3 linked regions of the Homo sapiens genome follow. The protein of the gene in region 3 purifies or fractionates together with the protein of the main gene of each other region. This does not show direct contact. Each region holds a gene or a part of one and is shown on either strand. Other genes may lie near its edges.

Region 1 (3,650 bases), on a different chromosome or scaffold from region 3:
GTGTACAGGGAGGACCCCTCTTGTAATGAGGTCTTATGAACTATTTTCAGGGGAAGGTCTGAGGGGTTGCTTTATGGCCTGCTTCAGGAAAGGGGGCAGGAGAGGGGCCGAGAGACCTCCCTGCTTCTGCTGTGTCCTCAAATGCGAAGGCACCATATTTTGGTGAAGTGTGTTCTGAACCTCATCATTAGTAAATGGTAGAACTACATTTGACTCTAAGCAGTCTGGTTCCATGGTCTTTTCGCCACAATGCCAAAGTATGAAGAGATTATTTTCATGATACTAGGCTACTGTAAATTTTCCTGGTACAGATGTGGTAAGTTGAGATTGACCAGTGCACTGTAAAATCTTTCTTAACATGCCAATGAGGAACCTGGGCTAACCAGGGTGGAAGCCTCTTATTGATGGACTCATCAGATCATTCTAGAGCTAAGCCCCTCTTTCTTGGGACCCCAGTTACATCCTTGGCCTTAAACTTTACTTATGAAAAGTTTAGAACCATGTTCCTGACTACATTAAACATTATTAAAAACTCAGATCTTCTTAACATAATTTTATTCATGGGCTTTTATGTATAGAATTTTAAAAGTCATGATCTGCCATTAAGCCAGGGAAGCAGATGGAAAGTCAGGACTTGGAGCAATTTATTCCCCCTGGCCTCCTTCTCATCCCAGGCCTCAGTCTCTCATCTATAAAATAATATGCCAGGCATTGTTCCTGATTTCTTCCAATACTGTCTTCTGCCCTGACATCTTTCCCAAAGATATTGTTCACCATTCCCCCAGTTTCTTGGGGTTAATCCTGAGTATTCTTAACACCTGCCTTGGTTTTTTTCCATCTGAAGTGTCTTCCTTTGCTGCCTCTTACACAGATCTGCACATCCCTTCAGGTCTCTCCAGCATGCTTTTGCTCCCACATTTCCTTTCCCCCTTCCTGTTCCACAGTACCTAGCGCAGTGTGTTAATTACAGGAAGGTAATATTATAAACTTACTGAGGTTAGAGACTACCACTCATCTTTGAGTCACCTTTGACACAGTACATGGTAAACATTTATTGAATTATATTCTTCCTCACTAGAGGAAATTCCTTCAATAAAAATTTATGTAGAGAGCTGGGGCCCTGTACATACAGTGCTGTCTTCAAAGTTAGCAAACAGCAAGGGGAACATATTTAAACAAGTGGTTACATTGTAACTGATCAGCCGCATCACAAGCAAGTGGAGGCTGCGGTCCTGGGTGTGGGAATGGCTACAGGCCCTGTTAGGTGAATCCTGACTGTGTCCTGGTGAGTGTCCCCTTGAAGCTGGGTCCTGATGGATACTTACTAGATGTTCTCCAGGAAATGAGATTTTCACACAGCCATGGGAAGAAAGCTGCCACGTTGGTAAAAGGCCTGGTTGCTTTCTGTAAGTATCTGGCCAAGTGGGAAACAAGGTCATACCGTGGAATCTGGGCTTGATCCTATAGGTAGGGAGGGGGAGGTTGAAGGTTTTTGAATAAGGGAGTGATGGTCACATTTGTGTTTTAAATAATTAGCTATTGACAACAATAGTAGTTAGTGATTGCCATGTGGAGGATTGTAACTTTAAACTTTTGTATGCTTTTCTGTATTTTTATGTTTACTTTAATGAGTGCATCTTCTGGTTATTTTATTTTTTATTTTTCTTATTTTTGAGACTGAGTTTCGCTCTTGTTGCCCAGGCTGGAGTGTGGTGGCGCTATCTCAACTCACTGCAACCTCCAGCTCCCGGGTTCAAGCGATTCTCCTGCTTCAGCCTCCCAAGTAGCTGAGATTATAGGCATGCGCCACCACGCCCAGCTAATTTTTGTATTTTTAGTAGATGAGGCTTCGCCATGTTGGCTAGGCTGGTCTCCTGACCTCAGATGATCCACCCACCTTGGCCTCCCAAAGTGCTGGGATTACAGGCATGAGCCACTGTGCCCAGCCATCTTCTGGTTATTTTAAATGTCATCCTCTACCCTAGTAGAGTAGAGGATAGACCTGAGACAAGGAAGCCCATTTGAAGGGGTGGAGGGGAGAATGAGTTTAGTTTCGCTGCCTTGAATTTTAAAGCTTATTATCTTATCTGCTGCATTAATTAGATCAAGGCCACCCTTCTGGGCTGGAATTTAAATTCACTCCGACTTGATGATTAAAAAAAAGCATTCAGTGTTACACAGTGTCCCCTTTCTGAAATAATGCCACAGTTAGTACGACACATTTTTCCAAACTTTTAATGGACACAAGGGGGCAGCCTTGCTGTTCTTTCAGCCTGAAGGCTGACGACCTGTTTGTGGCTGACTAACCATGTGCTCCTCTTCTGAATGTCATGGACTTATAACAGCACTCAACAAAATGCCAGCGCTCCTTTTAAATAAAATCTTAAAATGCTTTTCATGTGTTCATAAGTCATTCTCGCCTGCACTGGGGTTTCCAAGAGCCTTTCACTAGGGAGGAAAGGAACCGACTTCTTGGGATAACTATAAAAATGACTTTCTGTCTTAGGCATAGAGAAGGAGACGTGCCAGAAGATGGAAGAAGACGGGTCCACTGTGCTTGTAAGTTCCTGAATGTGGAGGGCCGGGTGGACTCAGGTTTCTTTCAGTATTTGTTTTGAAGCCCATGTGAATTTGTTAAATTCTGGTCAGTGTTAGGTGATGAGGATAAAATGTAAATGAGATAGTTTCTTCACTTGAGGAACACATAGTCTCTGCATTGTAACCCTAGCCGCAGGTAGCTGTGGAGCACTTGAACTGTAGCTACTCAGAAAAAGAAGAAGCATAAATGTCTCAACTTTTTATATTAACTACATGTTGAGATGATAATATTTTGGATGTCTTGGGTTAACTAAGGTTTATTATTATCATTATTATTGTTGTTATTATTATTATTATTTGAGACAGTCTCACTCTGTTCCCCAGGCTGGAGTACAGTGGTGCAATCTTGGCTAACTGCAACCTTCACCTCCTGGGCTCAAGTGATCCTTCTACCACAGCCTCCCAAGTAGCTGGAACTAGAGGCACGTGCCACCGCACCCAGCTAGTTTTTGTATTTTTTGCAGAAATGGGGTCTTGCCATGTTACCTAGGCTGGTCTCAAACTCCTGGGCTCAAGCAATCTGCCCACCTCCGCCTCCCAAAGTGCTGGGATTACAGGCATGAGCCCCTGCACCTGGCTGGTTTACTCAGTTCTTTTTTTTTTTTTTGAGACAGAGTTTCACTCTTGTCACCCAGGTTGGAGTACAGTGACGCAATCTCGGCTCACTACAACCTCCACCTACTGGGTTCAAGCAGTTCTCCTCCCTCAGCCTCCTCAGTAGCTGGGATTACAGGCATGCGCCACCACGCCCAGCTAATTTTTGTATTATTAGTAGAGATGGGGTTTCACCATGTTGGCCAAGCTGGTCTCAAACTCCTGACCTCAGGTGATCCACCTGCCTTGGCCTCCTGAAGTGCTGGGATTACAGGCATGAGCCACTGCGCCCAGCCCATTTACTCAGTTCTTAAACTTTAAACTTCCTAATTCCCAACTGATTCATCCATAAAATGAGTAGCACCCATCTGCCTTATCAAAGTGGTTGTAAGGATAAGATGAAATGACAACGTGAAAGATTTAAGCTGTAAAGTGCTAGAATACACTAGTGTGCTAGA
Region 2 (3,750 bases), on a different chromosome or scaffold from region 3:
TAGCCTTCCTGTTGATTCATAAGATGCAAATGAAATGTTAATGTTTAAACCAAGTGGGAGAAACTACTTATTTTGAGAGGAAAAAAATATGGTATAAAAGCTCTACTCTAGAATATTGTTAATGTAAGGAGAACTGGAAGAACAGGACAAGCAGGCTTTTGAGAAAAATCACAGCTGAAGATAGGGCTTAATAGTTTAGAGCACTAAAAGATAAACAATTTTAAAAATCAGTGTGTGAGTGTGTGTGTGTGTGTGTGTGTCTGTGTGTTGCGAGTCTCCAATCTCGCTGGTAACTCGCAGTTTTCTGATGAAAGTGCAGTATGTAACGATTACTAGTTGGCATCCTCTGCTGGAGACCAGTCTCACAAAAGGGTGACCCTGTGATGCACGAAAGGCTATTTAATGCCCCAGCGAAGTGCTTCAGGGACCAAGATTTTATTATTCTTTGGTGATGAGAGTTGTGATCCTGCATCCCTGATTTAGAGCCACTTAGGGCTCCGACAGCTCCACCCCGGTGTTCTAGAGGAAAATCTTCCTTCATGCTCTCTGCCTGATTTGAAAGCAACACAGCTTCCCGATGTTCCTCCTGGGAGGTGGTTCAATCTTTAGAAATTGCCTAAGAAGCCTGTCCATCTGCTGGAGTGCCTGGCTTTCGGGAACGGACCAAGACGGACTTGGCTTTTAATCTGAAATAATTTGAGGATTTTCTGTCTATAACTTAAAATCACCGCTTAACTCAAAGTAAAAAAGTGACACGCTCTCTAGAGGGCTTTTGTAGACATTGGGAAAATCCGTATGACGAAGTACGGTTTAGAAATTCCGGATTTAATTTCCCCCGGGAAAAGCAAATATCTTCTGTTGGTACCGGGCAGTCGACTCACGTAGTCTTCCTTTAAAACCAAGTCTATGCCAGCCGGGTGTGAGGGGAGTGGTGGGGGTGAGCAGGGGGAGGAGAGAGATTCGAAAAGTACAGGAGGAATCAGTCCAGTACAGGGGTTGCCCCTGCCAACAAGTAGCTATTCCTGTTAACTCCCAAGAAGCAAGTTTCCACCTTTGCCACTTCCTCCTGCCCTTTCCTTTCCTTTTCCCTTCACTCCCGCTCTTGGACCCAAGGTTCGCTCCCCACCGCCACCGCCCTGCCCCACTATTCTCTTTACAGGACAGAAGGCTGCAGCAGCACGGCGGAGAAAAATCTCTGAGGAATGAGTCAGTGGGATGGGCGTATGGGTGGAGGGAGAGGGCAGTCGATTTTTAAACCTCAGCGAGGGTGGGTGGGCAGTTGGAAGCCAGAGGCCTTATCACTGGGGCGCTGCAACATCACAGAAAGTGTTAGTCCCAGGGCTCTCCCTGGCGCGCGCGGCTCCTGTGCTTGCTTCTTATTGGCGGACCTGGCCCTGGGGGCGGAGCCGCGGTGAAGCACCGCTCATCCGGGCTCCAGGACCGGGGCACGCGGTTCTCCCTGATCCCGGAGCTGGGCTCAGGGCTCGGACTCAGTCCTGCAGCGCCTCTAGGCTGCGGATCCGCGCTTCAACCACCTGCTTTGCGCTGCGTCCGGGGAAGTGGGGAGGAGACGGGAGGGAGGGAGGAGGCGGGGAGAGGAGGAAAGAGGCAGCTTACACACGCCTTCCAGTCCCTCTACTCAGAGCAGCCCGGAGACCGCTGCCGCCGCTGCCGCTGCTACCACCGCTGCCACCTGAGGAGACCCGCCGCCCCCCCGTCGCCGCCTCCTGCGAGTCCTTCTTAGCACCTGGCGTTTCATGCACATTGCCACTGCCATTATTATTATCATTCCAATACAAGGAAAATAAAAGAAGATACCAGCGAAAAGAACCGCTTACACCTTTCCGAATTACTCAAGTGTCTCCTGGAAACAGAGGGTCGTTGTCCCCGGAGGAGCAGCCGAAGGGCCCGTGGGCTGGTGTTGACCGGGAGGGAGGAGGAGTTGGGGGCATTGCGTGGTGGAAAGTTGCGTGCGGCAGAGAACCGAAGGTGCAGCGCCACAGCCCAGGGGACGGTGTGTCTGGGAGAAGACGCTGCCCCTGCGTCGGGACCCGCCAGCGCGCGGGCACCGCGGGGCCCGGGACGACGCCCCCTCCTGCGGCGTGGACTCCGTCAGTGGCCCACCAAGAAGGAGGAGGAATATGGAATCCAAGGGGGCCAGTTCCTGCCGTCTGCTCTTCTGCCTCTTGATCTCCGCCACCGTCTTCAGGCCAGGTGAGCAAGGGCCTGGGAGCAGCCCCAGACAGACGTGGGCCTGGAGCAGTTTCCTAGGTCCCCGTCCCAGCCTCGCACCCCCGAGGCAGTGCGCCCAGGCGCGTGGTGGAGGTAAGGGGACCGCTGTCCTGGCACAGAGCTGTCCCCGGGCTCGGTCACCTGTGCCGCACGTTTGGGCTTGGCTGGTTAGCTCAAGTTTGGGCATCAAGCTGGGGAAACTGGGTGAATCTCCAGGAACTTGGTGCTCCGGGGTGGGCAGGATTCGCCTGACGCTCTCCCCTTGTCCCTGCGGCTCCCAGCTAGGCGGCGGACTCTTGCCCTCTGACAGTTCCTCCTGTCTCTGGGTATCCAAGTCCACGTCACTGCGCCCCGAGCAGTTTTTCTTTCGCTTAGTTCTCGGATGAAATAACTGCCGGCACTTTTTCGTGATAAATCCCCTAGTAACTTCCCCTTGGTGAGCCGAGGAAGGGATGGGAGGGGTAGAGAAGGAGAGGACTTTAATCACCTCCCCCCGCCCCCCTTGCGAAACCTGCTAAAGCTTAAAATCGTGGTTTCAACGTTACCCCCTGCGGTCCCCGTCCATTGTCTGGGCGGGTGGTGAGTGAAAGGGTGACCGCAGGCAGATAACACAGCCAGAACAGGAATTAGTAGGTAGGCCTGGGAGACACCTCAGTGAGAGGTTTGTGAATTTCCAGGACCTGCTCATAGAGCCTCAGTTCTCAGTTCTGTACTGAGTCTTGGAAGAGAGAGAGAGAGAGAGAGAGAGAGAGAGAGAGAGAGAGAAAAGGCAAAATTCCCAACAACTAAAATATCTCTCGGGAAATCCCTTTCCACACCCTCGGGGACGTCCCCTGGCCCTGGTATCCTCAGGCCCGCCTGGCGGCTGACACAAGTTGTTCTAACAGGGTATTCCGTGCGCTCACAGTTGCCTGACAGAGCAGCAGGTTCCTTTGCTCCCCTAAACTGAAAATTTAGGGGATTTTTTTTTCTTTGAAGTTTTTTTTTTCTATCCCTGCGTAGACAGTTGCCAGTTAAACTCCTACTTCCTGGTATTTTGGCCTGTTTGTTCTTAGCTTTTTCTTTAGCTTTTATCAAAGAAAAATCTCACTTCCTTTTATCCGTGCACATCCCTTCAGCTGTCGGCAAGCTCAGGTCACAGAAGAGGTTTGAAAGCCTCTGAATCTCTCCCAGGAACTGGCGGGGAGAGGGGTTTGGGGGCCAGAGCCTGAGGAAGAGATTACAAGTGTTTGCGAGCTGCTGCTGCTGCTGCCGTTGCTGTGTGTGTGGGCGGGAGGAGTGCCCTCTCCAGATCTCTTTATTAAAGTTACATTTCTGGGTGAGGTAATGAGCTCACCTGATGTTTCTGAGGCTGAGGGAAAAAAAAGGCGTCTGCGTTCTCTGACAAATCTCGGGCTCTGGGGCGGGGACTGTGAAACCATAGTTCAACCGGATTTAAAGCAGGTGTCCTAGTGTAACAACGCTGGGGAGGTAGGTGGAAAGGCGAGACCCCCTTGGGCCTGGCACAGTGTGGATTTC
Region 3 (3,750 bases):
TACTGTAACAACCATCAACTTATAATTAATCTTTTGCCACTCACACCTCTAACCTCCTCATATTATTTTTGAAGCTTATTCTAGCTTATTCCATATAATGTAAAAGATGATATAAAATCATTTCATCTAAGGATATTCCAGTATATACTTCTAATAGAGAAGCAGTCATTGTTTTAAAACAAAACTACGGTACCATTTCTGTCCTAAAAAAGAACAATAATTTCTTGGTATTATAATATTTTTCCTTTATACTTATTTTTACTTTCTTTTATAGTGAGATAGATGAATAGATAATTAGTGGTTAAATTGGGGGTGATTTTACCCTGTAGGGGTCATTTGGCAATGTTTGGAGTTATTTTTGTTACCAACTAGGGGGGTGCTACTGGCGTCTAGTCGTTAGAAGCCAGGGATGCTGATAAACACACAGGATGGTCCCCCAATAATAAAGAACTGTCTCTTCCAAAATGCCAGTAGCGCTGCTATGGAGAAATTCAGGTAGGCAGACATATAGGCAAATGGCAGTTACAAGGGACAAAAGCTTATACAGAAAAGAGATACAAAATTAGGTGATTTAGGTAACCACACAAAGGACAAAAATGGATTTATAATTGAAAAGATGATTCAGAATAGTTATTCCAATTGAGATGTCCCATGATGAAATAGAATTTTATGATTGTTTTAAAGGGATCATCAGTGGCCTATAATTAATTAATGGAACACGTGTTCTGGGTGCCGGTAAAGTAATTCAGAAAAATAGGTTTCTTACTTGGGCAGCAGAGTCAAAGGAAGTAATGAGCAAAATATTTAGTAAATACGAGTAGAATCTGTGTTCTGAAAAAATCTAGAAAAAATTATTTTGAATCCGCTAAAAAGTCTGTCACAAATGGCTTTATGTAAAACAATGCTATGGATATTAATGCTTGTGACACATTTTTAAGACAAAAATGAGTATTACTTACTTTAATGTAGACAGAACTATGCTCATTATTCTCCACACAAAACCCCTGGCAATAATTTACCTAGCAGCACAGTAGTTCTTGTAGATCAAAGCTGCATTATTTAAGCATGTCCAGGGGGCAGGTTTTAGCTCTGTGCCTTTTACTTTAAGGAAAAAAAAATATTGGTTTGCTTCTTGAGAGAAAGCAATGTTTAGCTAACTAGGTGCTTCATGCAAGTCCTGCAATATTTAAACTCACATGAATTCCTCCTGTTATCTGGGAAGAACTCCCTTTCTGACCCAAATACTCTAAAATCTGAGGAAAGTACAGAACAACTGTGGGAAAGCCAGTCTCTTCAAATGAACAGCGATGTATTTTCGTTTAAATTAAACCCGAATGTTAACTAGATTCAGGAAAGGAAATGGCAGAGGAGAGTCTGTCGTTGATATAGAATACGCCTGCCTGCGTCGGCTCACAGACAAGTGATGAAGTCCAACTCTGAAATTTCAGGCAATTTGTATACCAAGCTCCTCCTTTTCTGCAGTCTTCTTTTCCATTGGTAAAATTCTTTTGCAGGGTCATGTAGGGATCCCACCCCTTCTCTGTGTTTTCACTCTGAAGCTCTACACAACTTTACACCTGAATGAACGCCAAACCTCTATGGATATATAAAGGGAAGCTTGAGGAGGAATTTCACAGTTACAGTGCAGAAGCAGAAGCAAAAGAATTAACCAGCTCTTCAGTCAAGCAAATCCTCTACTCACCATGCTTCCTCCTGCCATTCATTTCTATCTCCTTCCCCTTGCATGCATCCTAATGAAAAGCTGTTTGGCTTTTAAAAATGATGCCACAGAAATCCTTTATTCACATGTGGTTAAACCTGTTCCAGCACACCCCAGCAGCAACAGCACGTTGAATCAAGCCAGAAATGGAGGCAGGCATTTCAGTAACACTGGACTGGATCGGAACAGTAAGTGTGTTTTACTTGTACAGTTTTTTTTTTTCTTTTCTGGTAGCATTAGCTCACATTCCTGTAGAATTGTTTTATTGGTAACTAACCTGAACCGTATATATGTTGTGAAACAATTTGGGAGTAATCTGCTGCATGTGCAGGTTGGCATTCTTCCCTAGGTAGTGATTTTAAAGTTAACCTAACTAAAACAGTGGTTTAATAGTGCAAGCACAGACTGAAGTTTTATCAAACATCCACAAAGAAAACATTTCCAGGAATTAAACTATTGTTTTGTCAAAATCATGCAAAATGACCATTTTAAAAAGTATTGTTTTAGATAGCTCAAGTTCCGGTTGTTTTGTCAATTTATTTCAGGGCATATGCAATTTTGGTAAAGTGTATAAACGTAACTAATATATATTATTAGTTACCATCCACAAATAAATATAGGGAATCACAAGGGAAAAAAGGAAGCTTCCAGGAGAAAAAATTTGTTTACATTGGATTTCTAAAATATGTCTAGTGAGATAGTCAAAAGTTTTGATGATGCTCAATGTAAAAGAGGGATAAACTAAAAATGTTGGAGAATCACATTTTTCTAAAATAATTCCTTGTTGTCCCATTCAAAATTTAGATAATTGTGTATTTCTGTGACAGACTGGGGACATTTTTGTAACTTAAGAGATGTAAAACAACAGCTTAGTTGACACACTAATTGACCACTGGTTAGGGGGATTCAAATTACCCCTAACTTTTGTTTCTATCTTTTCCTTTAGAAGAGGCCATATGCTAATAATCAGGTTTTAAGAGAGAGAGAGAGAGAGAGAGAAACACTGCGCAGGAAATCTTACACAAATCTTTTGCCTCTCCTTCTTCACTCCATTCAACTACGAAAAGTAGTTTTGACTTTTGAAAAGTCAAAGCAAATTTGACTGTTAATGTCTAAGAAAGCTAGGATGTTTTAACTTTCACGAAGCTGGTTGCTTTTAAGTACACAGGACATATCTGATTATTATTAGATTACTGAGCAATGTGGTGGGTATTCGTTGTCAATGAACTGTCACTGCAAAAATGCCAAATCTGTATATACACAGGAACAGAAAGCTTGACGAGACAAAATTATTTCTGGCTATTTCCAGGTGCATTCCTGAGGCAGCTGCAGGAAGGTGAGCTGGAGGCAGAATCAGGCACGCTGAGCACACTGTCCAACCAAACAATTTACGCTTTACATTTTAATCCCACAATTCTAGATTTCTATGCATGCATGTCTATATACATAAGTTTTTCCACAACTATCACGTTCCCCTTAAGCTATATCTCTTACCTCAGAAGTACTAGCATACAGAGATGAAGTGAAACTCCTGATTCAGTTCTACTTCGACGTATCTTTCAGTACTTTTTGTGGAACCACTTCAGTGTCCCTTATCATTTTTATTTGTAAAATGTCAGCAGCCTGTACTTTTAAACATCCTTTTTTTTTTTCCTGGTTGGCAAGCCTTGATTTCTTTTCAAGCTTGTTATAGGCAATTCTCCTCAAGTTTAGATAACAAAGCAAGGGTAAGGAAAACTTAAAATATTTAAAGATTAATTTTTGCTTTAATTACATAAGGCATGTAACAAGAAACAGCCAATTAGAGAACATACCTATCAAATCCAAATAACTAAAACAAAAAGTTTGCCATGACCAATATTCAGGAAATGAACACCGTGGTTCCTTTTGCAGTTGTAAATCAGACATGTTAGGCATTTTTCTGCCATAAAATTCATGGAAATGTAGCCAAGTTGTTATGGCAACCATACGTTCCTGATTTAGGGGCTTTTATATTCTTTGAGTCTTGAGTTGTAGTGGCATTTTACATT

The links.
Region 1: the proteins of SOSTDC1 (region 3) and TACC1 purify together in Homo sapiens (affinity purification with mass spectrometry, with the first as the bait; one study listed by BioGRID). This does not show direct contact.
Region 2: the proteins of SOSTDC1 (region 3) and ALCAM purify together in Homo sapiens (affinity purification with western blotting; one study listed by BioGRID). This does not show direct contact.

The regions. Positions count from the first base shown.
Region 1 is NC_000008.11:38,828,619-38,832,268, forward strand, and holds part of TACC1 (transforming acidic coiled-coil-containing protein 1), read left to right. Parts: intron 1-2,506; coding exon 2,507-2,559; intron 2,560-3,650. UniProt on the Homo sapiens protein: Involved in transcription regulation induced by nuclear receptors, including in T3 thyroid hormone and all-trans retinoic acid pathways. Might promote the nuclear localization of the receptors.
Region 2 is NC_000003.12:105,365,268-105,369,017, forward strand, and holds the start of ALCAM (CD166 antigen isoform 1 precursor), read left to right. Parts: upstream 1-1,641; 5' UTR 1,642-2,141; coding exon 2,142-2,214; intron 2,215-3,750. UniProt on the Homo sapiens protein: Cell adhesion molecule that mediates both heterotypic cell-cell contacts via its interaction with CD6, as well as homotypic cell-cell contacts. Promotes T-cell activation and proliferation via its interactions with CD6.
Region 3 is NC_000007.14:16,463,622-16,467,371, reverse strand, and holds the start of SOSTDC1 (sclerostin domain-containing protein 1 precursor), read left to right. Parts: upstream 1-1,633; 5' UTR 1,634-1,703; coding exon 1,704-1,908; intron 1,909-3,750. UniProt on the Homo sapiens protein: May be involved in the onset of endometrial receptivity for implantation/sensitization for the decidual cell reaction Enhances Wnt signaling and inhibits TGF-beta signaling. Directly antagonizes activity of BMP2, BMP4, BMP6 and BMP7 in a dose-dependent manner.